4 separate regions of the Homo sapiens genome follow, and regions 1, 2 and 4 are each reported to be linked to region 3. Evidence: microRNA targets listed by miRTarBase, many of them from high-throughput screens and not tested one by one. Region 3 holds a microRNA gene; each other region holds the end of a gene's coding sequence.
What was found. The annotated mature microRNA hsa-miR-4649-3p reads UCUGAGGCCUGCCUCUCCCCA and lies in region 3 at 2,608-2,628, opposite strand. An mRNA with a match to its seed (bases 2 to 7 or 8) in the 3' UTR can be bound and repressed. Matches are read on the target gene's strand: a 7mer-m8 pairs with bases 2 to 8, a 7mer-A1 pairs with bases 2 to 7 and ends in A, and an 8mer does both.

Region 1: miRTarBase lists C7 as a target of hsa-miR-4649-3p. Seed matches in the 3' UTR shown: 7mer-m8 at 1,310-1,316, 8mer at 2,896-2,903 and 7mer-A1 at 2,992-2,998.
Region 2: miRTarBase lists CMSS1 as a target of hsa-miR-4649-3p. Seed matches in the 3' UTR shown: 7mer-m8 at 1,718-1,724 and 7mer-m8 at 3,706-3,712.
Region 4: miRTarBase lists UTP11 as a target of hsa-miR-4649-3p. Seed matches in the 3' UTR shown: 7mer-m8 at 1,734-1,740.

The regions. Positions count from the first base shown.
Region 1 is chr5:40,980,947-40,988,468 of GRCh38, forward strand. C7 (complement C7) reads left to right here. Exons shown (of 18, transcript NM_000587.4): 18 at 446-3,697. The coding sequence ends at 627. Among named protein-coding and RNA genes, the nearest start is that of C7, 75 kb to the left of the region's middle.
Region 2 is chr3:100,177,241-100,184,820 of GRCh38, forward strand. CMSS1 (cms1 ribosomal small subunit homolog) reads left to right here. Exons shown (of 10, transcript NM_032359.4): 10 at 1,065-4,492. The coding sequence ends at 1,148. Among named protein-coding and RNA genes, the nearest start is that of FILIP1L, 67 kb to the left of the region's middle.
Region 3 is chr7:44,106,000-44,113,518 of GRCh38, reverse strand. It overlaps MIR4649 (microRNA 4649), which reads right to left and starts at 2,670; the gene lies at 2,607-2,670. AEBP1 (AE binding protein 1) reads right to left here. Exons shown (of 21, transcript NM_001129.5): 2 at 6,632-6,973; 3 at 6,009-6,080; 4 at 5,819-5,890; 5 at 5,588-5,710; 6 at 5,435-5,512; 7 at 4,543-4,620; 8 at 4,335-4,412; 9 at 4,178-4,231; 10 at 3,395-3,504; 11 at 3,173-3,312; 12 at 2,710-2,794; 13 at 2,462-2,606; 14 at 2,280-2,365; 15 at 1,889-2,012; 5 more.
Region 4 is chr1:38,022,782-38,030,361 of GRCh38, forward strand. UTP11 (UTP11 small subunit processome component) reads left to right here. Exons shown (of 8, transcript NM_016037.4): 7 at 1-28; 8 at 764-2,039. The coding sequence ends at 847. Among named protein-coding and RNA genes, the nearest start is that of UTP11, 14 kb to the left of the region's middle. RefSeq lists enhancers at 3,322-3,821, 3,988-4,540, 4,541-5,092, 5,912-5,961, 7,095-7,174.

The DNA of each region.
Region 1 (7,522 bases), not on the chromosome of region 3:
TCTGGTTTGTTTTTTGGGATTTGTAGCCTTTTGCATGCCATGCTCTCTCTCAAAGCAAGTTAAGTTCTCTTTTTTTCTCTCTCTCTTTGTTTGAGTCTTGACTTGGTTCTTTGTTGAGGGCTTCTCATTTGACCTCAGTTGCTGGCTTATATGGACAGCAGCATGTATGTAGGAGATAGTTGAAGAGCTCTTGACTTGGATAAAACCACCCCATGTGGTCTAACCAATATAAAGCCTGCTACCAACCTCAAAACCTATTTCTTTGGAGTGGAGCAAAATGCCCCAATTTCCTGGTCCTACTGCTTTTCCAGGGGATAATTTATTATGTCATTCCAGGCAGGAGCTTCTACAGCTCTGATCACCACATTATTACTTTGGAGGTGATGTTCTTTGACTCCCCGACCTCCACAATGTACCATTAAGCCTCTTTCACTTACTTTTCCAGCTGAGAGCAGCAAATGTGTCTGCCGAGAAGCATCGGAGTGCGAGGAAGAAGGGTTTAGCATTTGTGTGGAAGTGAACGGCAAGGAGCAGACGATGTCTGAGTGTGAGGCGGGCGCTCTGAGATGCAGAGGGCAGAGCATCTCTGTCACCAGCATAAGGCCTTGTGCTGCGGAAACCCAGTAGGCTCCTGGAGGCCCTGGTCAGCTTGCTTGGAATCCAGCAGGCAGCTGGGGCTGAGTGAAAACATCTGCACAACTGGGCACTGGACAGCTTTTCCTTCTTCTCCAGTGTCTACCTTCCTCCTCAACTCCCAGCCATCTGTATAAACACAATCCTTTGTTCTCCCAAATCTGAATCGAATTACTCTTTTGCCTCCTTTTTAATGTCAGTAAGGATATGAGCCTTTGCACAGGCTGGCTGCGTGTTCTTGAAATAGGTGTTACCTTCTCTGGGCCTTGGTTTTTTAAAATCTGTAAAATTAGAGGATTGCACTAGAGAAACTTGAATGCTCCATTCAGGCCTATCATTTTATTAAGTATGATTGACACAGCCCATGGGCCAGAACACACTCTACAAAATGACTAGGATAACAGAAAGAACGTGATCTCCTGATTAGAGAGGGTGGTTTTCCTCAATGGAACCAAATATAAAGAGGACTTGAACAAAAATGACAGATACAAACTATTTCTATCCTGAGTAGTAATCTCACACTTCATCCTATAGAGTCAACCACCACAGATAGGAATTCCTTATTCTTTTTTTAATTTTTTTAAGACAGAGTCTCACTTTGTTGCCCAGGCTGGAGCGCAGTGGGGTGATCTCATCTCCCTGCAACCTCCGCCTCCTGGGTTCAAGCGATTCTTGTGCCTCAGCTTCCCAAGCAGCTGGGATTACAGGTGCCCGCCACCACGCCCAGCTAATTTTTGCATTTTTAGTAGAGATGGGGTTTCACCATGTTGGCCACGCTCGTCTCCAACTCCTGACCTCAGGTAATCCGCCTGCCTTGGCCTCCCAAAGTGCTGGGATTACAGACATGAACCACCACGCCTGGCTGGAATACTTACTCTTGTCGGGAGATTGAACCACTAAAATGTTAGAGCAGAATTCATTATGCTGTGGTCACAGGGGTGTCTTGTCTGAGAACAAATACAATTCAGTCTTCTCTTTGGGGTTTTAGTATGTGTCAAACATAGGACTGGAAGTTTGCCCCTGTTCTTTTTTCTTTTGAAAGAACATCAGTTCATGCCTGAGGCATGAGTGACTGTGCATTTGAGAATAGTTTTCCCTATTCTGTGGATACAGTCCCAGAGTTTTCAGGGAGTACACAGGTAGATTAGTTTGAAGCATTGACCTTTTATTTATTCCTTATTTCTCTTTCATCAAAACAAAACAGCAGCTGTGGGAGGAGAAATGAGAGGGCTTAAATGAAATTTAAAATAAGCTATATTATACAAATACTATCTCTGTATTGTTCTGACCCTGGTAAATATATTTCAAAACTTCAGATGACAAGGATTAGAACACTCATTAAAGATGCTATTCTTCAGAATTGTTTCATTTGTATGATGTTTCATTTTAGAGAAGATTTTCATGATGAATGGTTAATGTGTTCTTGCCTGAAGTTTTATGTCTGATCCAGATCTAGCTTTTTGTATCAAAGTGTGCCCTAAGGGAAGATGCAGATATAATATGTTGAAGTTACAAGGAGGCAGGTTTCAATTGGTTAAAAACAATGACATTCAGACATTGCAACTGCATTTGTTAGCGGTTATTACAGAGTTAATTTCTACCCTGGATGGGAGGACACATTTGAACATGCTAGGCCTGGATGCAGACCCTGAGACAAAAGGTTGAACAAGTAATTCATTTGGAAGGAAATACCTCAGTATCCTTCCAATAATTTCTCCTCTTAGCTTAAGCTAGTATGGAGTTAGATTCCTACCGCTTATGTATCACCATGCCCCCTTCCTAAATAATACAGAGGATATGGTCAGCATTATCACATATCATCAGAGATTGAGGTTTGAAAGAAAGGAAATGAGTAGATGTAACTAAGAGGTTTGAGAAAGGAATTTCAGCAGAGTTATTGAAGGAGAAGTCAAGGAGAGGAGAAGGAGAGGAGCAGTGAATGTTGTCGTGAAGAGGTGTTGTCTTGAAATACTGTATTTTTTTCCTCCTTTTCTTTTCTGAACATTCTTGTGCTGACCTTTCCTCTAGTCCAACAGAGGCATTCACAATTGCCTGTGGAGAATTAGGATTGTCGCAGCAGGTCAGCAAGGAGAAAGTCATTTTTAAGATTAAATTTTTAAAAATGTTTTGAAACTTCCAAAATAAGTTCTTGAACACCTATGGAGAGGCTTTGAGGAAAGTTAAGGGAATGATTTTATACCACAAAAATAAATGGAAAAAGAATAAAGACTGTGAGAATTCCATCTTCCTGCCCTTTCCTGTGCCTCAGATCAGGTGAGGGTCATCTGGGTTAGAAGGGGATAGAGCCTTGGAGGAGGCAGAGGGCAGAAAGCATTGCTGAGATTAGAGTCATTTGGCCCTCAGAAGGAACAGACAAAGAGAAGGAAATTGGCTGGTGCATTAATCATCACTAGCTTCAGGGAGCTATGTGGAGGCCAAGGCACATCCTACAGATCATCGCTTACCACTCATGAGGACGCTACAAGTTACCTGGGCAGAGAAGGTGCCTGAGAATATTTCCTAATCGTTTTGAGAAGTGCCTTCCTGTGACATCTTATGTATTTCCTAATTGATCAAAAGTAGTGCTGCTTCTCTAAGCCCTGAGATTTAATGAGCCCCATTCAAACTGTTATTAATGTAACCTTCTTTCCCAGTGCAGGATGACTTGTAATCACCTTGAAAGAGAAGGAGGGTTCTTCGTATTCAGGTAGGGTATGGTAGGGATGTGGAGTGCCAAGCAGGAAATCTGACAAGTGACCCCCGGAACTTTGGATTACCTAGCAACTAGCCAGGTAACTGGCTAATCTGATTGAGGGTTGCCCTCTTTGCTGGGCAGATCATGGCTAATCTCAGCTTCACATGAGTCTTGTGAACCATCTAGTTGTTTTGTAACTGCTAAGAGCTGCAAGTGCTGAGCAGCTGGTTTATACAGCATTCCCTGAAACAGCCTAGTATGTGTCCATTTATGTGCCCGGCTTATTATGTGTCCACTTATGTGTCCAATTAGTAATCACTTTTTCTTTCGGTCAAGGTATGTGTATTAATCAATATTTTTTGAACCCGTCCTGTCTCAGTCTGTTTTATGCTGTTATAACAGAATATCACCAACTGGGTAATTTATAATGAGCATAAATTTATTTGGCTGCTGGTTCTGAAGGCTGGGAAGTCCATGAGCATGGTGCTGGCATCTGGCAGGGCCTTCATGCTGCATCATCCTATGGCAAAACGTGGAAGGGCAAGAGAGAGCAAGAGGAAGCAGGGGCTGAACTCGTTTTTATAACAAAAGCACCCTCATGATAACTAACCCATTCCCGTTACAACAACACAATCCATTCATAGCAGCAGAGACCTCATGTCCTAATCACTTCTTATGAAGGCTTGCCTCCCAACACGTGCATTGGAGGTTAAGTTTCCAACACATGAACTTTGGGAAACACATGCAAACCACGGCACCATGGTTTATCATTATTCTGTATTTTCTTTATGTTCCTATTCACATTTCTTATACACACATACTCACCCACCACAGGCATTTGGATTATTTGGAGATAATACACACATACTCACACATAATACACACAAACTTACTCACTTATACACACATACTCACCCACCACAGGCATTTGGATTATTTTCACAGCATAATAGCTAGTGGAAGTGGTCATCATCATAAACTTGAAGAAAACTTAAGATATTGCATACTTTGGGCACAAGATGAAGTGGGTATTCAGGGGTATCCAATACTTCTCTTTCTCTTCTCTGAAGTAGAGCGGATAGACAAAGAAGAGAAGAGAAAAGAAAAGGGGAGGCAGGAGAGATAGAAAGAGAGAGATAAATTGGGCCATTCTTAGTATGGGATTGGCAGAACTGAGTAGCCATACCAGTCCACTGAGATTTTTCTTCCTTGATGGACTAGTTAAAGCGTACTCAATACTTGTGTTAGAAACAGAATGGCTTGTTTCTTTCTCAGAACACTAAGCCAGAAAAGCGACATCAGTAGGAGGCAATTTCCATTAATGTCTGAGAAAACAGGTTTATGCCTGCCTTTCAATTACCTTGGACTTTCAGGCCATTCACACATTTGTGGACGAGAAAGCTGATGCCATGATAGGAGCCCCTGCTGTGACAACCAAAGCACCTACAATTTGTCTTTTTATTTATTCCTGTCAGGCTGTGAAGGCAAAGCTCTAGATTTACATTCAAGATATCAATCACATAGAAAAATTTGCTTCCTCAGCCAGGGGTTAACAAGACCAGATGGAAAGACTGCCGTTGTTTGAAAGGGGTGGGCTGGAGGTGAGAAGGTGGGCAAGAGAAGAAAACATGAAAATGTTCTTTTCAATTCATAGGCTGAGGACAATTTCCTGTGAAAAGACAAACATAGGAACTGCTCTGTTATCACTGTTATTTCCATGCATCTCTATGAGAGGAGACTTGCACTGAATTCCAGGGAAGGGGACTTAGTTATACGGCAGATCAATGATGTCCAAGACAGAGAAACATTGACTGAAAAACGAAGCACATGCGATGTTGGCTTGAGGGTCTATTACAAAATAATCAGCTGCCCTAGTCAACTGGGAACACAGAGAGGTCAAGGAATTTTCAGCAACAGTAAAATATAATTTTCTTATTAAAGAAAAAGTTTTGCCTGGCATCCCTAAGAGAAAATGGATTAACATGAAAGGCTTAGGATTGGTGTATCATTAGGCCATATACAACCCACGTGTGCATTATGACAGTATTTAATAAGGGGCCACAACTGAACTCTAAGTCCAGAAACTCTTTTTTGCACAGGTAGCACCAAGAGCAACTCCTGAAGTCAGGCATTATATAAAGCTGTATTCAAGCCCACTGACTGGACCCCCTTGTGACCCTATAGAATTAAGCAGCTTTGGTATGATGATAATGAGCCTTCCAAAGTATCTTGAGTCTCTTAATAATGTAATGATTGGCTGTTTAGCATGGACATGGGCACAGATTCATTAAATGTGGCAGAGAAAGGCACTTTTGAGGAAATCTGGTTCCCAAATCCCCTATAGCTTGGTGAAAATAGTGACTTATCCTCATTGCTCAGTACACTGGCTGTATATGCTCAATAAAATGTCCATTTTACAGTCACTTTCCACAGTCTCACAGCTAGTTAGCAGAAAGTCTAGTCTTAAAAAATCTCTTTATCTCCCAGAGTAGAGCTCATCCTGTTTCACTCTAGCACTGGCCCCTTTACTGTCTTGTAGACCTTGCGGATATTGTATGCTAGTCGTGTCTTGCCAGACAGCAGCATAGTTAAATGAGTCGTGTAGGGGTGGTTTCTTGCTATAGCTAGAGTGCTAGTATTATGAAATGTCAGCATAGACTTAAATAGGCAAGACATTTCTTTTGTTCCATGAGTAGTATGATCCTCCTAATTATCTTCCTTCCTTGTTTTGAATATAGATGGAGGTTTCCTGTAACCTTCCCTGTGGAGCATTGATTGAGGGTAGGGAAGTTGAAAATTGTGGTAGACAAGGAGCCAGAAGGCTTAAGGAGGAAGCTTAGCAATTACTGAGATCTAAACAATGTTGACAAATAGGCCTAAGTTTTGGAAAAGTTGATCTTGGGACTTTGGCTTATGAAGAGACTGCTAGTCCTGCTTCTAACAGTGGAGGTGACTGGAGCTAACAGTTCTTTTGGATGTATACTGGGAATTATAATCTTGCAATAAACATTCTTTCCAATTTAGATGGGAGAAAGGAGGGGACTGTCTTAGTTGGTTCAGGTCTCTATAACAGAATACCACAGACTGGGTGGCTTAAACAACATTTATTTTTCACAGTTCTGTAGGCTGGAAAGTCCAAGATGACAAATTTAGTGTCTATCAGGGGCCTGCTTCCTAGTTTGCAGATGGCCACCTTTTCTCTGTGTCCTCACATGGTGGACAAAGAGGGAGCTCTGGTCTCTTACTCTCCTTATCAGGGCACTAACATCATCAAAAGGGCCCCACCCTCATGACCTCATCTATACCTAATATCCCCCAAAGAATCTACCTCCAAATACCATTGCATTGGGAATTAAAGCTTTAACATATGAATGGGTGGGGTGACACAAATATTCAGTCTGTAGTAGAGACTGTGAACTGGTGTGATTTTTTGGGTGAAACTGTTGCTTCATTCAGTGGGTTTCTGAGGAATTTTGCTTCAAAAGCTTGCCCTTTGGCAATCCTGGCAAGTAATGCAAAGAGATCAAACTAAATTTATAAATCAGATATATTGTGTCTGCAGATGCTGGGGAGACACTTTTCTCTCATATTGAAATAGCAGTGCCTCAAAGATCTAATACAGGAGCTCAGCAACGTAGGCTGGAATTACCATCTCTTCTGAGACAGAACACTGGTCCTCAATCTTCAGATGTGTAATGCAAAGACTTGAATACCAGAAAAGAGCAATGTTAACATTTAAAGCTAAAACTTCAGTAGTGCTTATCATGTGCCAGTAAATGCTGCTAGTTGCCTAGTTCCTTGCTTCTTATGAGTGGTTGATCAGAAATATCCAATGCAGATATTTCGTTTATCTCTATTACCAGTTCATGCCATGGTGTGTAAGTGCTTTCTTTACTACTGGAAATAGAGTCATTAGCATCTTTAAACTCAGATCCAAATCAGAAAACTTGTCCTTGAAATTCTGTTTCTCTAGAACCACTCTCAGTACATAAATCTTTATTAGGGTTCTTCAGAAAAACAGAACCAGTCGGATAGATATAGATATATGATATCATATATATCCTAAAGGATATATATATATAAAATATATATTTATATAATTTATTAAGTTTTTAATATTTTCTATTTTTGTCCTCATTGTCTTGAGCATATGGAGCACATTTTTAATAGCATTACAAGTTTTAATATATTAAT
Region 2 (7,580 bases), not on the chromosome of region 3:
ATCAGTTCAGGTTAAAAAACAATTTGCTCAGTTACACACACGCACATGCACACACACATACACAGTCGTGCATTTTGTCCCCTGACTTGACTGGTTTCTTAAAACTGGTTTAACAAATTTGATATCAGGCATGAGGCCATAGTTGATTATTTCAGTTATAATATTAAATTTGACTAATCTACTAAGTTTCTAATTCTAATAATGAGAAATGTCCAAAAACATCTTGTCACCCATAGTTATTTTTATTCTGTTGCTGTCATTCTCAGCAGTTATCCTAAGGCAATAAAATCCTATACTGAACTATTGTATATAATCTTGTTTACAGAAAGCACACTGTGGAGTCCTTGAAACACCTTTGTATAGCATTTTATTTTGAATGGCTGCAAACAAAAGGGCACTTTAATGAAACTAATGTTTTATATAGTACCTCCTCCTTCATTTATATAAATATTTTAATTCTGCCAGGCATGGCAGTGCACACCTGTAATCCTAGTGCTTTGGGAGGCCAAGGTGGGAGGATTACTTGAAGCCAGGAGTTCGAGACCCGCCTGGACAACAAAGCAAGACCCTGTCTCTACAAAACAATAATAATAATAGGCCAGGCACAGTGACTCACACCAGTAATCCCAGCACTTTGAGAGGCCAAGGCAGGTGGATCACTTGAGGCCAAGAGTTCAAGACCAGACTGGCCAACATGGCAAAACCCTGTCTCTACTAAAAATACAAAAATTAGCCAGGTATCATGGCACACACCTCTAATCCTAGCTACTCAGAAGGCTGAAGCATGAGAATCACTTGAACCTGGGAAGCAGAGATAGCAGTTAGCCGAGATCACGCCACTGCACTCCAGCATGGGCAACAGAATGGGACTCTGTCTCAAAATAATAATAATAATAATTTTAAAAATTTCAACTCTGAATCAAATGTGTGTTAGGACTTTTGCACTCTCTGATTCTGGCCATAACAGCTGGGTAAATATCAGGGAGTCCTGATGGTTGAATGTATTCACCAAGACCATTTTGGCTTGATCTTAATCTTTTTTTCCCCCCTTTTCTCTCATTTAGATAAGAAAGGAGGTATTCGAACTTCTGGAAATGGGAGTGCTCAGTCTGTGCAAGTCAGAATCCTTGAAACTGGGCCTTTTCTAAGTCTGTGTCCTAATGAAGATTCCAGTTTTCACAGTAGAAGTTGCATCTTATTTAATGACTCTGATACATTGCAAGCACTCAGTAAATATCAGCAAATAGTTTATGTTAATTGTGTCAACAGATGGATCACTGGAATGTGGGGATTCTGAAACAGAAATGAAACTGTCCTTTTGACAACTCTCTTATATAATAAAGTATCACCGGCTTGTGTATGATCCTTGTTGAGCGGACCGTGTTTTTCTGTCACCAACTGGCTTCTGATGTAACTGTGCAGGAGAAAGGAAAGAGCAGCTGGGTGACCTTAGGCAAGCGTAAGGTCTTGCCTCTCTGAGCCCCATCTTATCAACTCAAAGTGGGAATGTCTCACAGCATTGTTGAGGATTCCAGGAGATAGTACATGGGGAGCAGATTTGTAAACTCTGAGGCATGGTCCCAGCAAAAAGGGTGGCAGGTATATTAATCCATTCTCACATTGCTATAAAGAACTACCCGAGACTGGGTAGATTATAAAGAAAAGAGGTTTAATTGACTCACAGTTTCACAGGCTGTACAGGAGGCATGGCTGAGAGGCCTCAGGAAACTTGGCAGAAGGTGAAGGGGAAGCAAGCACATCTTCACATGGCGACAAGAGAGCAAGAGAGTGAAGGGAGAAATGCCACACACTTTTAAACGACTAGATCTTGTGAGAACTCACTCCCTATCATGAGAACAGCAGAACAGCAAGGGGAAAATCTGTCCCTATGATCCAGTCACCTTCCACCAGGTCCCTCCCCCAACATTGGGAATTATAATTCAACATAAGATTCGGGTGGAGACACAGAGCCAAACCATGTCAATTCCACCCCGGCCTCTTCCAAATTTCATGTTCTTCTCACATTTCAAAACACAATCATGCCTTCTCAACAGTCCCCCAAAGTCTTAACTCATTCCAGCATTAACTGAAAAGTCCAACTCCAAAGTCTGATCTGAGACAAGGCAACTTCCTTCCACCTATGAGCCTGTAAAATAAAAAACAAGTTAGTCATTTCCAAGATACAATGGAGGTACAGGCATTGGGTAAATGCTCCCATTCCAAGTGGGAGAAACTGGCCCAAAGGAGCTAAAGGCCTCATGCCAGTTTGAAACCCAGCAGGGCACTCTTTGAATCTTAAAGCTCCAAAATAATCTTTGACTCCATGTCTCACATCCAGGCCACTCTGATGCAAGGAGTGGGCTCCCAAGGCCTTAGGCAGCTCTGCCCCTGTGGCTCTGCAGGGTACAGTCCCCATGGTTGCTTTCACAGGCTGGTGTTGAGTGCCTACAGCATATCCAGGTACACAGTGTAAGCTGTCAGTGGATCTACCATTCTGGGGTCTGGAGGATGATGGCTCTCTTCTCACAGCTCCACTAGGCAGTGCCCCAGTGGGGACTCTGTGTAGGGTCTCCAACCCCACATTTCCCCTCTGCACTGCCCTAGTAGAGGCTCTCCATGAGGGCTTCACCCCTGTAGCAGACTTCTGCCTGGACATCCAGGCGTTTCCATACATCCTCTGAAATTGAGGCAGAGGCTCCCAAACCTCAGCTCTTGCCTTCTGCACACCCATAAGCCCAACAGCACGTGGAAGCTGCCAAGGCTTGGGGCTTGCACCCTCTGAAGCAATGGTTCAGCTGTACCTTGGCCCCTTTTAGTCACAGCTGGAGCTGGGGCAGCTGGGAATTAGGCTGCCATGTCCTAAGGCTGCACAGAGCAGCTGGGCCCAGGGCCTAGCCCACGAAACCATTTTTTTCCTCCTAGGCCTCTGGGCCTGTTTGGTGGGGCTGGGGAGGGCTGCCACGAAGGTCTCTGAAGTGCCCTGGAGGCATTTTATCCATTGTTTTGGCTATTAACATTTGGCTCCTCTTGTGCAAACTTCTGCAGTGAGCTTGAATTTCTCCCCAGAAAATGGCTTTTCTTTTCTACCACATGGTCAGGCTGCAAATTTTCAAGCTTTTATACTCTGCTTTGCTTTTAAATATAAGTTATCTCTGCTTATGCAAATGAGCATAGGCTTTTAGAAGCAACCAGGCCACCTCTTGAACACTTTGCTGCTTAGAAATTTCTGCCGGATACCCTAAGTCATCTCTCCCAAGTTCAAAGTTACACAGATCCCTAAAGCAGGGGCACAATGCCACCAGTCTCTGCTAAAGCATAGCAAGAGTGACCTTTGCTCCAGTTCCTGATAAGTTCCTCATCTCCATTTGAGACCACCTCAGCCTGGACTTCATTGTCCATATCACTATCAGCATTTTGGTCAAAACTGTTCAACAAGTCTCTAGGAGGTTCCAAACATCCCTCATATTCCTGTCTTCTTCTGATCCTTCCAAACTGTTGCAACTTCTCCCCGTTACCCAGTTTCAAAGTTGCTTCCACATTTTTTAGGTATCTTTATAGAAATGTCCCACTTCTCTGGTACCAATTTTTTGTATTCTTCCATTTTTACACTGCTATGAAGAACTACCTGAGACTGGGTAGTTTATAATGAAAAGAGGTTTAATTGACTTCCAGTTCCACAGACTGTACAGGAGGATGGCTGGGGAGGCCTCAGGAAATTTACAATCATGGCAGAAGATGAAAGGGATGCAACCACATCTTGTGGCAACAAGAGAGCAAGAGAGTGAAGGGGGAAGTGCTATACACTTTTAAACAATCAGATCTCTTGAGAACTCACTATCATGAGAACAGCAAGGGGGAAATCTGCCCCCATGATCTAATCACCTCCCACCAGATCCCTCCCCCAACACTGGGAATTACAATTCGACATGAAACTTGGGTGGGGACACAGCCAAACCACATCAGCAGGGTAGTGGTAGAAAGAGCATCAAGTGAATTTGGCCCTTTGTAAACGTATAAAAAGACAACAATATAATTACAGCTGTCTTATTAACTTTTTTTTAAAAACTTTCTATTTTGAAACTTCAGGCTTAATAGAAAAGTTTAAAAAATAGAGAATTCCCATATCCCCTTCCCTGAGCTTTCCCTGTGTTAAATTCTTGTATAACCATAATAGAGTTATCAAAACTAAGAAGTCATCACTGGTACTGTATAATTAACTAAACTACAGAGTTTATTTGGATTTCTCCAATTTTTCCACTAATGTCCTTGTTCTATTCCAGGATTCACTGCAGGATCCCACATTGCACTTACTTAGTTGTTGTATCTTTTTGGTTTCTTCAGACCAGTGACAGTTCCTCAGTATTTCCCTGTCTTTCATGACCTTCACACTTTTGAACAGTATCCATCGTGTATTTTGTAGAATGTCCTTCAATTTGGATTTGTCTGTAATGTTCTCATGATTTGATTAAAGTTATGCATTTTTTGACCAGAATACCACAGAAGTGAGTATGTCCTTCTGGATTTATTATATCAGGGGTACATAATGTTAATATGTCTTATTACCAGTGATGTCAACCTTGATCACCTGGCTAAGGTGGTATCTGCCAGTTTTTTCTATAAAGTTATTATTTTCCCTTTGTAATTAATATCTATTTTAGGGGCAGTACTTTGAGGCTATACAAATATCTGTTTTTCCTCAAACTTTTGCCTGCTAATTCTAGCAAATATTGGTAGTTCTTGCCTGCGACAGCCATTACTGTAATGGTTTTTCTATTTTTCTCATTCCTTCAACATGTGTTACATTTATTACAGAATTCCTCTTTAAGAAAGAATTATCTCCTTTCCCCCATTTCCTTGTTTGTTCAATTATTTATTTACATCAGTATGGACTCATTGATACTTATTTTATTCTATGAGTTATAAGGTAATAGTATTGTTTTTTATTTTTTTGCTCAAATTCACTTTTCTTACTCATTTAAATAATGTTGATTGGTTACCCACTCTGTGCCAAGCACTGTGTTTACAACTTTCATTTATATATAAGCTGTCATGTTTAATCACTGAAATAGTCCCAAAAGAAAAAGTAAGTCACATTGTATAGACAATGAAACTAAATCTGAGAAGGGACATACACTAGTTTAAGTAGCAGAACCAGAAGTCAGACCCAGGTCTCCCATATCCACTTCAAGACACCCAACTTATCTGGAGACTCAAGCATATACAGCAAACGAGATAGGAAAGCAAACAGATGCCATTACTGATATATAAAATTCTACATTCCAATTTTGTGAAATTGTAAATGAGCCTAACAGGCTAGCAAGTCAAAATCCAGGAAATCACACAGGCCTGCACACCAGCACCTTGTTGTTCATGCACCTTGCACCTCTGTGGCCTGAAATCCACACACAGGAACTCAGAGGAAAGAGGAGTAGGTTCCATTCTCCAGGATTCCCACTAGAGTCCAGTAAGTTAAAAGAAAAAAAACCACCACAGAATGAACATTAAGCTATCGCTAAACTTAACCCTATCACTTTCATCCCTTTAACCCTAACAGGTGAGATATTCTTGGCCAATGGTAAGAAAGAAAATGGACCACATACCTTCTCAATAGAGGCATTTAACTTCCTGTCAAGTGACGTCTTAGATTAATGTGGAAAAAAAGCCATCAAGTATGATTGTATCAGAGGAGAGACTTGCAAATTAAGACACTGTGGTCTGTGCTGTCAGAATTCAGACCAATCTGCCAAGCGGCTATTAATTCGCCAAAATATGAGACTATCATGAATATTACATGTGTATATTCATATAATGTATATTTAATATATATTTTTATATTTAGCATATATATTTTCATCCCAGCAGTTAATAGGAAAGACAACGAAATATAAGGCAACCCCAAATATACAAATGTCTGCTAATGCCTGAGAAGGTTATCTACAGTGGTTAAGGAAAAATGAAGACAAGTTAGAAATCACTTTAAAATTTTTCTTTTTTTCCTTTTTTTTTTTTTAAAGATGGGATATTGCTCTGTCTCCCAGGCTGAAGTGCAGTGGTGCCATCATAGCTCACTGCAGCCTCAAACTCCTGGGCTCAAGTGATCCTCCCACCTCAGTCTCCCAAAGTGCTGGGATTACAGGCATGAGCCACTGCACCTAGACTTTGAAATTTCTAGTGATGCCACAATACAACAGCTGTTAACAAATTGTTGTATTGGTATCAATCTAGAACAGTGATTCTCAAACATGGGTAATAGAGGCCGGGGATGCAACTAAACATTTTACAATCTTACAGGACAGCCCTCACAACAAAGAAATATCTAGCCCAAGATGTCAGTAGTGCTGAGAAAAAGAACCCTGTTCTGGAAATATTGAAAGGCAATGCATATGAGGTATATTTGCACATTGAAAGTAGATTTATTTAGAAGAGAGGAATAGATGAATATAAAAGTACCTGGAGAATGTATATCTAGCTGTCTCTCAAGAATATTGTCCCAGAAATATTTGTACTTACTACCTGTGATGGCTAATTTTAATGTGGCAACTTGGCTAGGCCGTAGGATACCCAGATAGTTGGTTAAACATTATTCTGGGTGTTCTGTGATGGTATATTTGCATGAGATTAACATTTAAATGGGTAGACCTGAGCAAAGAGGATTGCCCTTCATAATGTGAGAGGGCCTTGTCCTGTCAGTTGAAGGCCTCAATAGAACAAAAGACTGACTCTCCCCAACCCCCCAAGAGAATTCTGCCTGACTGCCTCCTAACTGAAACATTGGCTCTTCCTGATTCTGTGGCAGCCTGTTGGCCTTCAGACTTGAATTGGGACATCAGCTTTGCAGATTTTGGGCTTTTCAGCCCCATAATCATGTGAGCCAATTCCTTATAATATATATATATATGGTCATATAATCTCCTGTTGGTTCTGTTTCTCTGGTGAACCCTGAGTAATACACTATCTGTGAAGCTCCTTTTAGTCTGGGATTTGAGTTAGTTGGTTTTGTTGTTTTATAAACAGTCTAAGAAATACTATTCTCATTGGTTTTTTGCTGTAATTACCCTCTTGCTAGGCATTATCTATGTAATATAATGCCATCCAATCCAATGTTGGAATAAGTATTTGAATCACAAACATACCCCAATGTTGTGTAGGTCAACCCTGTTCTTATAATCTAATCTCATAGCCTTTTACTGCCTTTTAAACCCAAGCTCTTGACCATGTTTTATTTAGTAAAACAAATGGTAAATGTTAACTAGAAGTGTTCACTGCCATCTCCTCACACAAGGCTGTTTGATACCAACAACCGTACTAGTTGCCACCTCCAAATTAGATTCAAATGTCATGCTGAAAATTTCCCGTTGGTATTTTGCTTTTTATACAGTTTGTAAATGGAAAGCTTTAACTCCGAATTGGAAACTTCCTAGTGTAAGCATTTGCATCAATTTTGTATTCTTTCAAACTAGGTACATTTGCCAAAGTCATTACTTTCTTTGATACAAAAATAGTCCAGGATGGCTTCTCTGACTAATGTAAATTAAAAGGGAAGATTAGAAATTCACATGCTCCCTAATTTTAAAAATTCT
Region 3 (7,519 bases):
AGCCCCGCCCTCCCCCTCTGAGTTCCCGCCCCCAGCACCGCCCTCCCTCTCTGAATTTCGCCCCCAGGCTCCCCAGACTCTACCTGCTCGCTGAGTTCCTCAAGCCCCCACCCTCTCTGGCGGGTCCTCCCTCAGAAAGATGGGGTAAAGGTGTGCACACTAGGTACCTGTCTTCACGCCGTGATTAATGCCACTCACAGAGATGGTGGCGTTGGCAATGGGGATGCCTTGCTCGTCCGTCACCACCCCCTTAATGCCGCGGTGCACCTAGGGAAGCAGGTGAGGGCTGCTGGTCCTCAGGAAGGTCCAATGTGGTCCGCTGCTCCCTCCCGCCCATCCAGGAGCCTGTGCAGCCTCCTCTCCCCAGGCATTGCCCTAGCCACCCCACCTGCTCCATGAAGGTGAGCAGCGCCTCCTTGTTGTTCTCCCACTCGCGGGGCAGCTCACTCTCATGAGGGAACTTGTCACAGCCCAGGTAGAAGGAGAGCTCCAGGCAGTTGGTATGCAGGTAACTGAAGTCATTGATAGCTGGCCGGGGACAGATACAGACCCAAAGTCAGCCCCTCTCCGGACCAGGCCCCGCCCACAGCCCCTCCCAGGCTGACTCACTCCCGGTCCGGGGGTTCCACTTGGCCCCGTTGACGATGCCCATGCCGCCGGTGTAGTCCTGGGCTTGGCAGCCTCCGCGGTAGGGCTCGGTCAAGGTGAGGTGTGCGGAGGCGAAGGAGATGGCAAGCCACCGGAAGATGGCGTGGTCTGGAGTCTCCTGGGCCTCGGAGACCTCGTCCTCATCCTCCCCCCGGGCTGCTGCCATGGCTGCGGCCAGCAGCTGCTCCTGGGTAGGCGTGCGGGCCATATCGTAGGGGTAGGATACTAGCCGCTCGCCGCCGTTCAGATTTGCTCCCAGCACGAAGGGGTTCTTCTCCATCCAGGCAATGATGGCCCGGACCTCCGTGGATACCTGGAGTGGCCAGCACGTGTGAGGCCAGGGCTGCAGCTCCGGCCACTATCCCCAACCTAGCCCGATCACCCTCCATGAAGCTTCACACCAGTACTCGCACGATCCCCTGTCCCCCAACCCCCAGAGCCTCAGCGTCTGGAGTTCAGGCACCGTCAGCCCCACCCCCAAGCCCAGAACACCAGGACCCCAGGGTCCAGCTGCTCCCTCCTGCCCTTTCAGCCAGGCTGTAGCCTCACCGTGGCATCTGGCGAAAGGTAGCGTTCAGGGATGGGCAAGTTATTGTTGGGGACCCGGTAGGGGACCCATTTCCTCTCCTCAGCTCCCCAGAGCACAGAGTTGAGATCCGGGAAATCTTCAAAGATGTCAAAGCCCTCCTCAGTCCACAGTCCCAGCGCCCAGTTCCCAAACTCTGAGCCCTGTGGGGAGCCAGCAGGGTAGGCATCGGCTACCCACACCCCCACAACCCCCAGCTGCCTGGACCCTGGCCAGCCTCACCCTTCAACCCACCATCTGCGCTGCCACCTCGTAGCCATCAGGGTTCAGTGAGGGCACCAGGTGGATGCGTGTGTCCTGCACCAGGCTGCGCACACGTGGGTTCCCATCGCGGTACTCTCGGCACAGGTACTGCATGAGCAGCAGCAACAGCTCTCGGCCCAGCACCTCGTTGCCATGGATCCCAGCAGTGTAGCGGAACTCGGGCTCCCCTGCAAGGGCGGGAGCCTCAGTGAGCACTCAGTCTCCCGAGGCCCAGGGCAGCTGAGGAAGGACCCAGACCCACCTCATACCCGAGGGTCTGGGGGACAGCTGGGGCTCCTAGGGCCCTGTAAGACAAGCCAGAATCCCCAGAGAGGCTCCGGAACAGGCGGGAGGCAGTGAGCTCTGCACATCAGCAGCAGAGGCCAGCTGCTGGCCCCCACAGACCCTCACCCAGTTCATGCTCCCCAGGGTTGTCTGAGATCTCCATGGCATAGATCTTGAGGCCTCGTGAGCTCTTGCCCAGGCTGTAAGTGCGGGTGATGGTGGGGCACTCCTCGTTCACCACCTTCATGAGCTGGGGCAGAGGGGGAGGACGTGGAATCAATCATGCAATCCGTCCCCCGCTGACCATGCCCCTTCCACTTCCAGGGCCTGCTCTATGGCGAGGGACGGGCATGACCCCTTCACGCAGCCCCCAGGTACTGGCCTCCTTCCTAAGGTGAGGGACAGCCAGCATCCCTGGAACCAGTAGGGACTGGGCCCAGTGACAGAAGCACCAGGCACACACTCCCGTCAGCCACAGACAGGTCCCACCCCCAGCCCCAGGATATATGCTCCCAACCTGGCGCATGTCCTTGTAGCTGTGGTGCCGGAAATCCAGGTCATCGGTGGCCACCACCTCATTCTGTGCGTAGTAGCTGTAGACAGCTGCAAGGGAGGCGGGGTTGTCTTTAGCTGGGTGCCGGCTGGCCCACCCTAGCACCCCACCTCCACTCAGAGCCCCTGCCAGCCCTCCACACTCACGGGCCACAGAGCACCCCAGCACCTCCAGGCGCATGCACAGGCTGCCATTCCAGGTGAGTGGGTAGATGCGGATGAAACGAGCCACCACCGGCTCTGGGAGCTCACTCAGCACGGGTGTGTCCTTGTCCACGTTCCCATGAAAGGTCTGGGGAGAGGCAGGCCTCAGAGCAGTACTGCCAGCCCCTCTGAGAGCCCACCCCTCGCCCAGACAATGGGAGCAGAGCCAAGAGCCTGGGCATGGTGCCCACCATTTCCTCATAGCCGTTGGTGTACATCACCCATGTCTGGCTGTCATTGCTGAAGCCCACGAAGAAGGTGGTCACAAAATCGTCACTGTGGAGTGGACAGTGGTCAGAGCAAGGGTCTTCCCCCTCCCAGGCCCTCAGGTGGCCTGAGCCTCCCTCTTCCGAGCCCCAAGAATTTAAGAGCTAGCAGGGTGGTGCTGCACGGCCCAGGTGTTGAGCCTGGGTCCTATGCCCGTCACATAGCCATGGGCAGGTGATCTGTCCCTAAACTCATGTGCTATCAGGACACAGGGGCTGACTGACCAGGCTGAGGAGTGGGGATGGGCAGGGTGAGTCCCTCACTGATCTTTTTGGCCTTCTTTGGCTGGGCCAAAGAAGGGCCCACTGGAATCTCCTTAATGGGACACAGAGCCATGCCTATGTAGCCACTCCCCTCTGCCAACTATCCATGAGCCTGGCCACGCACTGGATGCTGGAGTCTCTGCCCTGGGTGATGACGCCTGTGAACCGGGTAGTCCTCCTGGTGTCCACCTCTATCCACTGGGTCCTGGCATCGTCCTCGGCACACCACGCACCATCATAGTAGTCGTCCTCAGTGGCACCGGTCTGTCCAGGGGGCAGGGGAGGCTGAGCATGGGCGGAGGAGTCCCTTATCCCAGTTGGGAGATGGGCCCATCCCAATGCCCACCTGCATGTTGAGCCGGCCGCGCTGTGCCCCCAGGCCGTGGCGCAGCATGGAGGAGGCTCGGATCTGGTTGTCCTCAATACGGTGTGACTCCATCCCAATGGGGGGACACTCTGAGGACGCGTACCCCAGAATGGTGGCTCACTAGCTCCATCCTTCCCTCCACCAAACCCAGAACCAAGGAGCCCAGAGCCCACTCCCGGCACATCGGGGGCACAGTCAGAGGGCAGCTCTGGTCAGCTGGTGGCTCCCTGGTGCCCTGCACCAGCCCACCTGGAATCGACTCAAAGCCAGGCCAGGAGCTGTTTCCAATCCCAGCCTGTGCTTCCCCTCCCTGGGCCTCAGCTGCCCCATCTGGAGAACGGGCTGACCATGCCCAGCTCTCAGGGGACACACGTGAAATCACAGGTAGAGCTCCCCCAGGGCGCAGCCACAGATGTCATCCAGATGGGGACCGTCTGCACAATGGCCCTGCAGGGATACCTGTGAAGGTACCTGAGGTCCTCACTCCCCACCAAGGCCCCAGGTCCTCCCCCTACCACGCCCAGCCACTAGGGGCCCTGGGGAGCTGCCACCCTCCTGAAGCAGGCCAGCCTGGGGTCCAGGGCTGGGGCAGCCAAGCGAGGCTATCCTGGGCTCCCGGGGCCCCTCCCTTCTGGGTCCCAAGAATCTGAGTAGGAAAGGGTTCCGGGGACCTGGGTCCTGTTTGTGACATTGGGCCAGTCACTTGTCCCAGCACCCCCATCCTGTGGCCCCCACCCTCACCCCCTTGTGCCCCCCACTTACTGACTTTCTCCGTAGGCGTCCACTCCTCCTCCAACTCCTCGCCCTTTCGGGGCTCTAGGGACAATGAAGGGAGGACATGGCACCAAGGGCCCGGGAGGCAATCAGGAGTCCAGATGCTGCCCCACAGGGACCCAGGCCCCAAGCCCCAGCCACACACCTTTGTGGTCCTTGCCCTTCTCCACTGCCCACTTGTCGGTCTCCTCCTTGGGGCTGCTGTCCTCCTTTTTGGGTTTCTCTGGAAGGTGCAAGGTAGGAGGGGCCAGTCAGCCTGGCTCTGGGCTTTGAGGACCATGTGGGGTGGATCAGGCAGGCCCCAGGTGGCCTTCAGGGCAGGCCTGGTGTGGGAAGTCCTTGGTCCCACTCACTCAGCTCCTCCTTCTCTTCGTCTGTCTGGCGCTCAGCATCGGGCTTCTGGGGCGGAGGAGGCCCAAAGTAATAGTCCACTATGGGGAGGGAGAGCCAGCTGAGGCTGCCCTGACCCTGCTGCGGGGCCTCAGCTCCTGGGTCCACAGGAGCTCAGCAGGACAGGACCGCGCCAGAGGGGAGGAGGACGGGAGATGGGGGACAGCTGAGTTGGGAGAGGGTCTTGCAGGAGTCAGGAGCAGCCCGAGCTCAGGGGCAGCTGAGCAAGACCCTGCTGAAGTCACCAGCCCGGCCTTCCAGGAGCATCTGGCCTGGGGAAAGGACTCGAGGCCCAGGGCATGGGAAAGGCCTGGAGGGACAACTGGCACCTGTGCCTGGGGTTGCGGGCTGGGGGGTGAGATGGGGAGACATTGGAGGCACTGATGGGGACCTGGGGGCAGGGAAATGGCGATGCACGGGCTGCCACCCAGGAGGAAAGGGAACCTGAGGGCTCCAGGGACGCAGGGGCATGAGCAACAGGGAGGCAAAAGCCCTCGGGCTCCCTGAAGAGAGTGGGGCAGTGGCCACGAGCCAGCGGGAAGCCAGTTAGAGCACAGGACTGGGAGGGCTGGAACCCACATGGGTGACAGGGCAGAGTGTGTGCCTAGGGACACCCCTGTGGGGGTCACAGCCAAGCAGGAACCAGGGAAGCGGCCAAGGAAAGACCAGCCTGAGGGCAGAGGAGACAGGGCAGTGGCTGGGGTGGGCACGCAGGGACAGCAGGGACAGCGAGGTAACCACGGGCACAGGTGGGGTTGCAAGGTGGGTGAGTTGCCCCAGCTGGCTCCTGACCACACCCCAGCCCCGACCCCCACCTGCCTATGTCCCTCAGACTCTGGGGTGCTGGGTACTCACTGTCATCGTAGTTGGGGATCACGTAACCATCACCATAGTCAGGGGGCAGCGGGGGCAGCAGAGGCTTCACAGGAGGCTCTGGGGAGGCGGGGAGGTTAGGAGGGGGCCAGAGCGCCGTGGCCATGGCACCTCCTCTCCTGCCCCCCATCCTACCAATCCTCTCCTCCGGGGCTGGGGCCGGGGCCTTCTCCTCAGGGGGCTCTGGCCAGACCCGCTCGGGCCTCCTCCTTCTGCTTGGGGGTGGCCTGGGTTGCTTCTGGCGCCGAATGTACTCAACTGAGGGGGAGGCTGGCTCAGAGTGGGGCCCAAGGCTGGGATGGGCCCATTGGCACATCCCCCAGGCCAGGGGTCCGACCCAGGTGGGGCTGGCAGGACCCTACTCACAGTCCTCATAGTCCTCCCTCTCGATCTGGTCATTGTAGTCCAGTGTGGGTTGCTCGGTCTCCTCCTCCGGCTCTGAGGGGAAAGCGCTGGTAGCTGCCTGACAACCCCACCCAGGCCTACTCTGGGGAAGCCCTCAGTCCAACCAGCCAGGGCAGCTGGCCCCAAGGCCAGGCGGATGACGGCCACTCACCAGGCTGGTGCTCCCGTGCCTCCACATGGGTCTCCTCTCCTGGATTCTGCCAGTTATTTGAGAGGGGCGCCCCTGCAACACAGGAGTTCCAGAAGCAGGTGGGCGGGAGGCCTGCTCTGACCACCTTGGGAGCCTCAGGCCACCAGCCACCCATAGAGCCCACACAGAGCCTGTGGACACCCTCCTGAGGCCGAGCTCACTCCAAGGAGGCCTGAGCTCCTCTGGCCTTCAGCATCCTGCTGGCATCTCATGGGGCCAGAGAGCTGGGCCCACCTTCTGGGGAACCTACTGTGCTGCTGGAGGCCCTACCACAAAGCTGTCCCCAGCGGGAGAAGGCAGGAGGGAACTCCATGGGCTCAGAGCCCAGGGACATCTGGGCAGGGGCCTGAGGGACAGAGGTCCCACCCAAAAGGCTGCCAAGCCCTCTCCCTACCCAAAAGAGGCTACAGCACTGAGGGAGCCCACCAATCAAATTGTGAAATTTATAGCAAAAGTGAGGTTCCCATCCAGTGGGGAGCTGAAGGTCTATAGGAAGCAGGGCCCCAGAAACCTGCCTCCCACTCCCTGCCTCCACCCGAGCAGGCAGTCAGAGCCCCATCACCCCAGAGGAGCCCGGCACAAACCTCCCTCCTGGGGTAGCTCCTCGGGGCCAGGGCTGGGGGGTGGGGGCAGTGGCCACTCCAGGGTTTCTGAGGGAGCCAGAATGGGGGGCCTCTTCCCTGACGGGGGCTTCTTGGTGGCCTTGGGTGGCTTCTCTTTGGGCTTCTTGGTGGCCTTGGGTGGCTTCTCCTTGGGCTTCTTGGTGGCCTTAGGTGGCTTCTCCTTGGGCTTCTTGGTGGCCTTGGGTGGCTTCTCCTTCCCCTTCTTGGGCGGCCTGGGGGACCCCTCCAAGGACTCCTTGGGCACCTTGGGGCCTTTGTCTTTCTTGCCTTTCTTCCCTTTGTCTTTGGTCTTTTCCGGAGGCACTGTCCAAGATGCAGACTCGTGTCAAATGAACAGAGCCAGCTCTGTGCCCCCATGAGGCCCCTCTCTAGATGCCCAGAACCTGGGCACAGGGACTCTTGTCAGTTCCCAGTGCGGATCAGCAAACTGAGAGGTTAAGTCATTTGCCCAAGTGGCAAACTGGGATCCGGACCCAGATTTTCTGTCTGCAAGTCTGGGGCTGTGACCACCAATCTCAACCTCTCTAAAGACTGAGCGTAGGGTTCCCAGTTCCCAGGGGGAGGCCCTCATCCCCCCACCTGCCAAAACCTCAATAGGGGTTCCTTACTATCCACTCCTCCACTATTCTGTTCTGGGCACAGAAGGGGCAGAGAGGTGACTGAGCCATCCAGGCCTGGAGGAGCATCTGGTCATCCCTGCCAACTGCCATACAAAGGAAGGGACATGGGCCCAAGACCTTCCCCTGGTCTCCTACGGGGCAAGAAAAGCTTCAAAGAAAAGGGACACTTGGTTGAGTATTGAAGCCCAAAGAAGAGGAAGTGGTCTCCTTTCGAGAAGTAAGGGGTTTG
Region 4 (7,580 bases), not on the chromosome of region 3:
GAAAATTCAAACACGCAAAGATCTTATGGTGAGGAGAGAGAGCCTTAGGCCTCTTTTTTTTTTTTTCCCCCTTTTCTTTCTTGTAAAGGTCTTAACTCAGACTAGATTTCAGCTGTGTGTAAATCAACCCCAGTGAAAATGTCTGCTCCTCAGGGGCAGTGGTTTGAGCCAGTGTCTGTTACTCTGACAGTGTTGAAATGCGCCTTGATTAAGGAGGTAATAAGGGGGTTATTAGTCAGTGCTTTGGAACAGCAAAGGGTAGGATCGGGTAGCATATGAACTTTATAGCTTATGAGCAGCTCCCGTAACATTTAAACAGGTTAACAAAACAGTGCATGTCACTCATTGGTGTTTAAAAATAGACAACATTGTGTAGTTAAATAGCAGAGCTGAGGAATATAAGATGCCTCTTTCATATTCTTATCATTCCTCTAAATGTCAAATTCTTTAGCTTTGTAGATCATTTAGGTCAGCCTTTCTCAACTGGGGTTCCGTGAGAGAATTAAAATTATAATTTTAAATGAAACAACTACTTGAACACCTTTCTTCTCAGTTTTCCTAGGACTGTACACAGCTAGTACTTTCTAGATGCCTAGGGGAGAAGTTAATTCATTGCCTACAGTGGATGCCTTGGGCAGTAGGGCTGTGTCCGTTCTCAACTTTGAGAAGGGCTGAAGCAGGTGCTAATAGGTAGTTTATTAACCTTTCGATTTTACAAAACCATTTCCTTCTCTTTACTGATCACCTTTTTACTCTTTTGTAGGATAAAACTCAGAAAGTGAAGGTGAAGAAAGAAACGGTGAACTCCCCAGCTATTTATAAATTTCAGAGTCGTCGAAAACGTTGACGTGTTATAGATAAGCCTTGTCATTCTGTATCAAAAATCTGTTGTCGTTTTCTAGTAACTTCAAATTCCATTACTCCAAATGGCATGGTTTTCCGGTTTGTAACCATAACTAAATTGTCAGTCTGACATTTAATGTCTTTCTATGGACAACATTAAATCTCCCTCCCTTCTGTAATTGTTTTTGGATTGTGAAATTAGTCTTATTTTTATATACTTAATTTTTTTTTTCTTTGAGATAGGGTCTTTGTTGCCAGGCTGGAAGTGCAGTGTGTGATTATGGCTCACTGCAACTTTGAACTCCTGGGCTCAAGTGATCTTCCTGCATCAGCCTCTTGAGTAGCTGGGACCACAGACATGTGCCACCATGTCTGAGTAATGTTTAAATTTTCTGTAGAGACCAGGTTTTGCCATGTTGGCCAGGCTGGTTTTGAACTCGTGGCCTCAAGCGATCCTCCCACCTTGGCCTCCCAAAGGGCTGGGATTACAGGGATGAGCCACTATGCCCAGCCCATAATTTTTTTTGTTATGAAACATAGGATCTCATTACAGCAGATTTGGAAAGTAGATTAATTCATTCCTAATCCCAGTGCTTATTCAATAATAACAAATATTTATTGCATGCTTAACTGTGCTAGGAGCTAGAGCTGTGGAGGTGGACAATTACTGTGAGTAGTCTAGTTGATTTCCTCCATTTTGTAAAACGAGGCATCACTTTTTGTCCATGTTTTTGTGTTTTATAGTTACAGTAAACAATTTGATGTCCTACTTTTTTTTTTTTTTTTTTTGAGACGGAGTCTCGCTCTGTCGCCCAGGCCGGACTGCGGACTGCAGTGGCGCAATCTCGGCTCACTGCAAGCTCCGCTTCCCGGGTTCACGCCATTCTCCTGCCTCAGCCTCCCGAGTAGCTGGGACTACAGGCGCCCGCCACCGCGCCTGGCTAATTTTTTTTTGTATTTTTTTAGTAGAGACGGGGTTTCACCTTGTTAGCCAGGATGGTCTCGATCTCCTGACCTCATGATCCACCCGCCTCGGCCTCCCAAAGTGCTGGGATTACAGGCGTGAGCCACCGCGCCCGGCCGATGTCCTACTTTTTAATTAAATCATTAGCTCTTTCCCAGTTTGTTACATCACAAAAGTTTTTTACAGTAATATATGCTAGAGTAAACGTTAAAATAAATATTATTTTTAATGATTGCATAGTGTTTTATCTAGTGGATAGACTGATTTTACCCTCACTCATTCTTCTTTTATTGGCTATTCAGGTGGCTTCATAAATTATCCAAGGAGGAATTTTTTTCTCTTACTTAACAGCTGCAGATAGAAACTCTTGGAACAAGGAACCTACGGGAGCACCTCTTCCTTATTGATGAAGCTCAAATCAGTATAGGCCTGGCTGTGTCTCTGTCCTCTGCACTCCATGCCAACTCACAATTCCAAGGCTAGAATAGCTTGGTGCAGACCTTCACTCTGGGAATATGGACCCCTGGGTGTGTTGGCCAGCTTCTTTCTCTTCTCTGGTTCTCTCCTTCCTTTGTTTGCCCATATCAGGATTATAGGCCAAGGACAGTAAGGACAGGACTGAACATGCTTAGAGCAAACATGGGAGAACAGGGAGCGGGGTTCTGGGGGGCTTGCGTAGCCCTTACACCAAGGAGGGAGAACAGCCATGTGTGGATTGTAAGGCTTTAAAAGAAAATTGTTAATGCTTAATAAGTGCCCATGACTGTGAGCTTCCTGTACAAGCCTAGACTAGAAGCCTGTTTCCTCAGGGTGTACCCAGTGGAATTTAAATCAGGGGCCCTGGAAAACAGCAAGAAGGGTCAGGAAACAGAAACCAGTAGGTTTTGCCTTCAGGAAGGAAATGCTTCCCATTGTGTGTATGCACTCCCTTCTGGGGAGGTGCTGAGCTCAGTCAATGCTGAAAGTTTTAGAGACTTGAGGATCAAACCAGGGAAGGGACTCATCATAGTGATACTAGACAGGGGAGTGAGCAGACTAAGCAGCAGTCTGATCCTGGGGTCAAACAGCTGGATGCTGCTGCTCCGTCTCTTGCCCCTGCTGGGTGGGAAAGTGGGGGAGAGGATAGGGAATAGACCTAAATGCCTTCTCACGAACCACACACCCACATGAAGGTAGGCTCGCCTCATGGAATCTCATGTTCACAGATGCACAAGGCACATATAACTCAGGCCTCATAAACAGGTACAGGCATACCTACACACCGTCTGGCACAGGAGCACAAACAGTGACGTTTGAAGAGCCACACTCCCAGGCCAAATGGAGCAGGAAAGTGCATCCTTTTGGTGTACTGTGAGTTCCAGGCTGAAGGTAATCGGAGTGCTGTAAGGGGAGCTGGGTGTTCTGAATTGCTGTTACACTGAGTGCTGTCTCCAAGACTCAAGGATTTTAAGCAAAGAGATTGGCTGTCCCTGTGACTAAGCAAAGACAGGCCCCAGCCCCATGTATTCTGAGAATTGGCCAGGGCTTTGCCGCTTTGGTACTCAGTGGGACCCTAGACTCTTGGCTTGTTGGGGAGGGAAGAGTATTGTTTGCTTAGCCGCCCTTTTTGGCCTAGGGGTGATTTGGGCTGTTGGTGGCATACTGCTCTAGCTGTGCCAAGGGGGCTGTGGGCAGCCTATGGAGCTGGAGGGATTTTCTGAGTCAGGACTTGTTTGGCTCAGGTCTCTTGTACAAACCAAGTCTCCAAACAGCAGTTCTATGGTGATGTGGACCCTTCAGGTCTGTCCAACAGAGAATTCAGTAAGCCTGGCTCAGTCTTAGTCTGTTGCTGCATCCTAGGGCCCTTCCCACCAAAGCAGGAGAGTGTCAAGCCCTAGCTTTATTCTTGAATAAGTTCATCTTTTTCTTTGAGACAGAGTCTTGCTCTGTCACCCAGGCTGGAGTGCAGTGGCGCGATCTTGGTTCACAGCAACCTCCGCCTCCTGGGTTCAAGCGATTCTCTTGCCTCAGCCTCTCTAGTAGCTGGAATTACAGGCGCAGAGACGGGGTTTCGCCATGTTGGCCAGGCTGGTCTCGAACTCCTGATCTCAGGCGATCCACCTCTCCTTGGCTTCTCAAAGTGCTGGGATTACAGGCATGAGCCACTGCTCCTAGCCAATCTTTTTCTGATTTCTAACTGCTTCCTGGTGCCAGGGTGGAAAAGGGCCCAGCAGGTGGAGCTGCTGCCCCTTTGCTGGGATTCCTTCTCAGGGACTTGGTGTCCACCCACCCAGCACACTTGTCTTCTTTCAAAAGTGTCCTTGTACTTAGGAAGTACTTGCATGTGTTTGCTTATTGAATTTAATGCTAGGGGGGAGAGCTCCCATGAAGAAATGGGATTTTCTCACCCTGAGTTTGAGATGAGTGTGGCCCCAGGAGGAAGACTGGGCAGGAAGGTGCTTTTCCTTCCTGTTTCTAGTGAGGACCATGCAGGGAGGTCTCTGTCACATAGCCCCAAGTTTCCCATAGGGTGGTTCCACCCAGACCTGGGAGGGGTCTCCCTCCGTGCAGCTTTAAGCATCTGTTTGTCGCTCACTGTCCTCTCCCCCATGCTGCTGACGGTGGGGCACTGAGCAGTTAGAGCTGCACGTCCTCCAGCAGGGAAGGCAGCCAACAGATGCAGACTCGCTCTGCCTACCTGTGGAGGCCGGTGAGGCCAGGGCCTGTTGGGACTTGAAACAGTGAGGCAAGTGGGTGTGTGGTGCTGGGCTCCCCGCTCAAGTTCTCCCAGCGTGCCAGTTCCCGGAGCCTTATGTGCAGGGTGTTGGGGAAGGGCGGGCTGAATCGTGGGTGGGAGTCTTGGCTCAAAGCCCCAGGTGAGTGGAGGAATTGGGGGCGGACCTGAAGTACTGTCTTGAAGTGGACCTGGCAGGCCTCTTGGGCTTGTGCAGCTGCCTCCCCGGGTCAGAGGGTGCGCCCTCTGTACCCAACCAGGTCTCCACAGGTCTGTCTCAGCAAAAAGTGCAGGGAAGGATCAGAGAGAAGCTGTAAAACAAAGGGAGGCAGAGCTTCCCTTCCCAAGCCTACTGCTGAGAGGTTGGAGTGTAGAGGAGGCTGCCTAGTTCATGCTTCTGCCTGTTCTTTCCTCAACTGCTCTGGCCAGAGGGAAGAACGTCTCCGCTGCTTCTCAGGCTCCCTGTAAGGAATTTCCTGGCTCCCTATTCCTGGATCCATCATCATCACATTTAGGAAGTCTTGTCCAGTCTACTCCTAGGTGAAGCATACACCTAGGTCTCCTTGTTCATCTTGTCCGCTTCGCTTAATGCAAAGGGAACAAACTGCTTGGGGCTGGGGTGGTTGCACAGTCCAGCCCTGTGCTCCTGCGTGGTGGTAGGAGAGGCTCGTCCAGAACGGAGCTAAGGACCCAGCTTTTTCTAGGCAAGAGGAATATATCAAGGGAACTGCTGTGTTTAGGGGTAAGCAGAGGATGGAAAGGGCTTCCTTTCCCCTCCCTGCATCTGTCACCTGACGGCCATGCTCAGATCGGGTTAATGAAACTGTGGTGCCCCAGGCAGCTGGGCAGCACCCCCCTGCCCTGAATCAGCCTGAGTCATTTACAGCTTTCTCCCAGTTACCCCAAAGGCTTCTCTCAGAGGTGACAAATGTAGGGGGTTGGTTTCGGGTTTCATGTTTTCACATTACTGGGTGGAAAAAAGAAAAAACACCTTTCCAAACCAAAAAAACCAGCTTCTATAGCAGAAACAACTTGTCCCGAGAGCACTGAAAATTTCCCCATCCTCTCTCCTCATCTGCTCAGAGACACTGAGACCAGTGATGGAGGGGTTAAGGGGAGGGGTTGGAGTCAGGCTGAGTGGAGTGTTGGGGACAGCCCCTTTGGAGGTGGCAGCACCTGCCTTCCTGCTTATAGGCAGGGGAGGACCTTTGCAGGGCCCTGCAGCTCTGAAGCCTGTGGTCTCCAGTGCCCAGAGATGGATTGCCAGGGCATGGGACAGTGAACTCAGGGTGGCGAGGGACCAGGGAAGGAAGGGACCATCTCCCCTCCCTAGCTATTTTGATCCCAGGAGGTCTGGGACAGGTGTCCCTCCCTGGCAGAGGGTTCTTGAGGTGGAGTGGTAGGTGGAATATAGAAGGTCCATCTGGCACATGGAGCCTAGGGGGCAGCACCCCCTCCTCTTGCTGGCTGGTAGCATTGTAGACCACCCCAGCCCCCCGCCAGGGGCAGATGGTCTCCATAGCAGATGGAGACTAGGCTGGCAGTGGCAGGATGGGCTTTCTAGTCTCAGCCTGGCCACTCTGGCTAATAAGACAATCCGGGGGCAGTGACAGGGCTAACTGCTGGTGTGTGTGTGTGTGTGTGTGTGTGTGTGTATGTGTATGTGTGTGTGTATATAGGTGTGTAGGAGAGGGAGCCCTGGCCTTATTGGGCCATTCTGGGGGAGAAGTAAAGAGGAGTCCCAGACAGAGTCAGTGGATCTTTGGGGCCCCCTCAAGTTTGCTATGTAAGCGTGGCAGGCTCTCAGTGCCTGGGCTCCTGAAGCTGCCCTGGTTCTTGTGTGAAGGGGCCGGCTCCTGGGCTGGGAGCCTCTGCTGCAGCTGGAGCCTGGACTGCTTGATTTAGACCCCCTGCCAGGTCCCCAGAGCTCGGCCTGGGCAGCAGCTCCTCCCAGAGGACGCGCCCGTTTATTATGCGCTCCTGCTCCCTCATGGCTCAGGCAGGCAGCGGCCTTCATTAGCGGAGGAGCTGGGGTCTGTTTTGGCTGCCTCATCAGCATCAGTGAACTGCGTCCCTGCGAGATTTGATACAATTTAATTAACCTAATTAAAAGCTCTGATTGCAGAGATGATTGGGGTAGCGCCAGCAGCGACTGCATATTTATAATGAGCTGCAAGGTGTGGGACCGCAGCCAAACGCCACGCATCCTAATGAGCGGGAGCCGGGAGCCAGGGAGCGGGAGAGGGAACGTTTATTTTTGGCAACAATGCCCAGTTCCTCCCTGCCAGGGAGTCAGAGACCCAGGGAGCAGAGACGGACCTGCCCACTGTGCTCTTCCGCACAAGGTGGAAGCAGAAATGTGTGCTCTCCACCGGTTCTAGGGCCCTTGGACGCCCCAGGAGCACACAGTGCCCGTGTTTCTGTTTGTAGAGTAGGGGGCTGGGACCCCAGCCATGCACTTTTCCTGCCTCTCATCTCTGGGAGTCAGGGGCTGCCTTCTGAACCGGGGCCTTGCTGTGAGGAAACAGGACCCAGCAGAACCACCTTGTTTCCAGGCTCCAGGATCCCTGGGCTGTTTTCTCAAACTTGCCAAGGAAGAGACAGGGGCTGGCAGGACAGGCTGAGAGGCTGCTTGGGAGTCAGAAAAGGGGTCTGCATATCCAGGAGTCCCAGATGAAGATCCTGGGCCTGGGACAGAAAGGAGAAACAGGAGGGGCAAACTTCCCACTCATCCTGGAAGCTGGGGACCCCTGTCCCCATCTCCTCACTCCCTTTGAGGACCCTGCCCAGGGAGGCCAGCTGCCCTGGACTCTTCCTGTCTTCTCCCACTGCCTCTGTCTGGGGAAGTCTTGGTTTGTCTGACTCAGCGTTTCCGCTGTAAATCACATCTAATAATACCGAGAGTGAGAGCTGAGACGGAGGTGCTGTGGGTGAAGGGGCACCGGGGAGGAGGGGCACGCCGCCTAGGTGCCAATGGGTGTTGTTCAGGGAGGGAGCTCTGAGGCGGCAGGAATGGGGGCTGGGCCCTGAGGAAGAAGGTGGGAGCAGCCTGCCACCCCT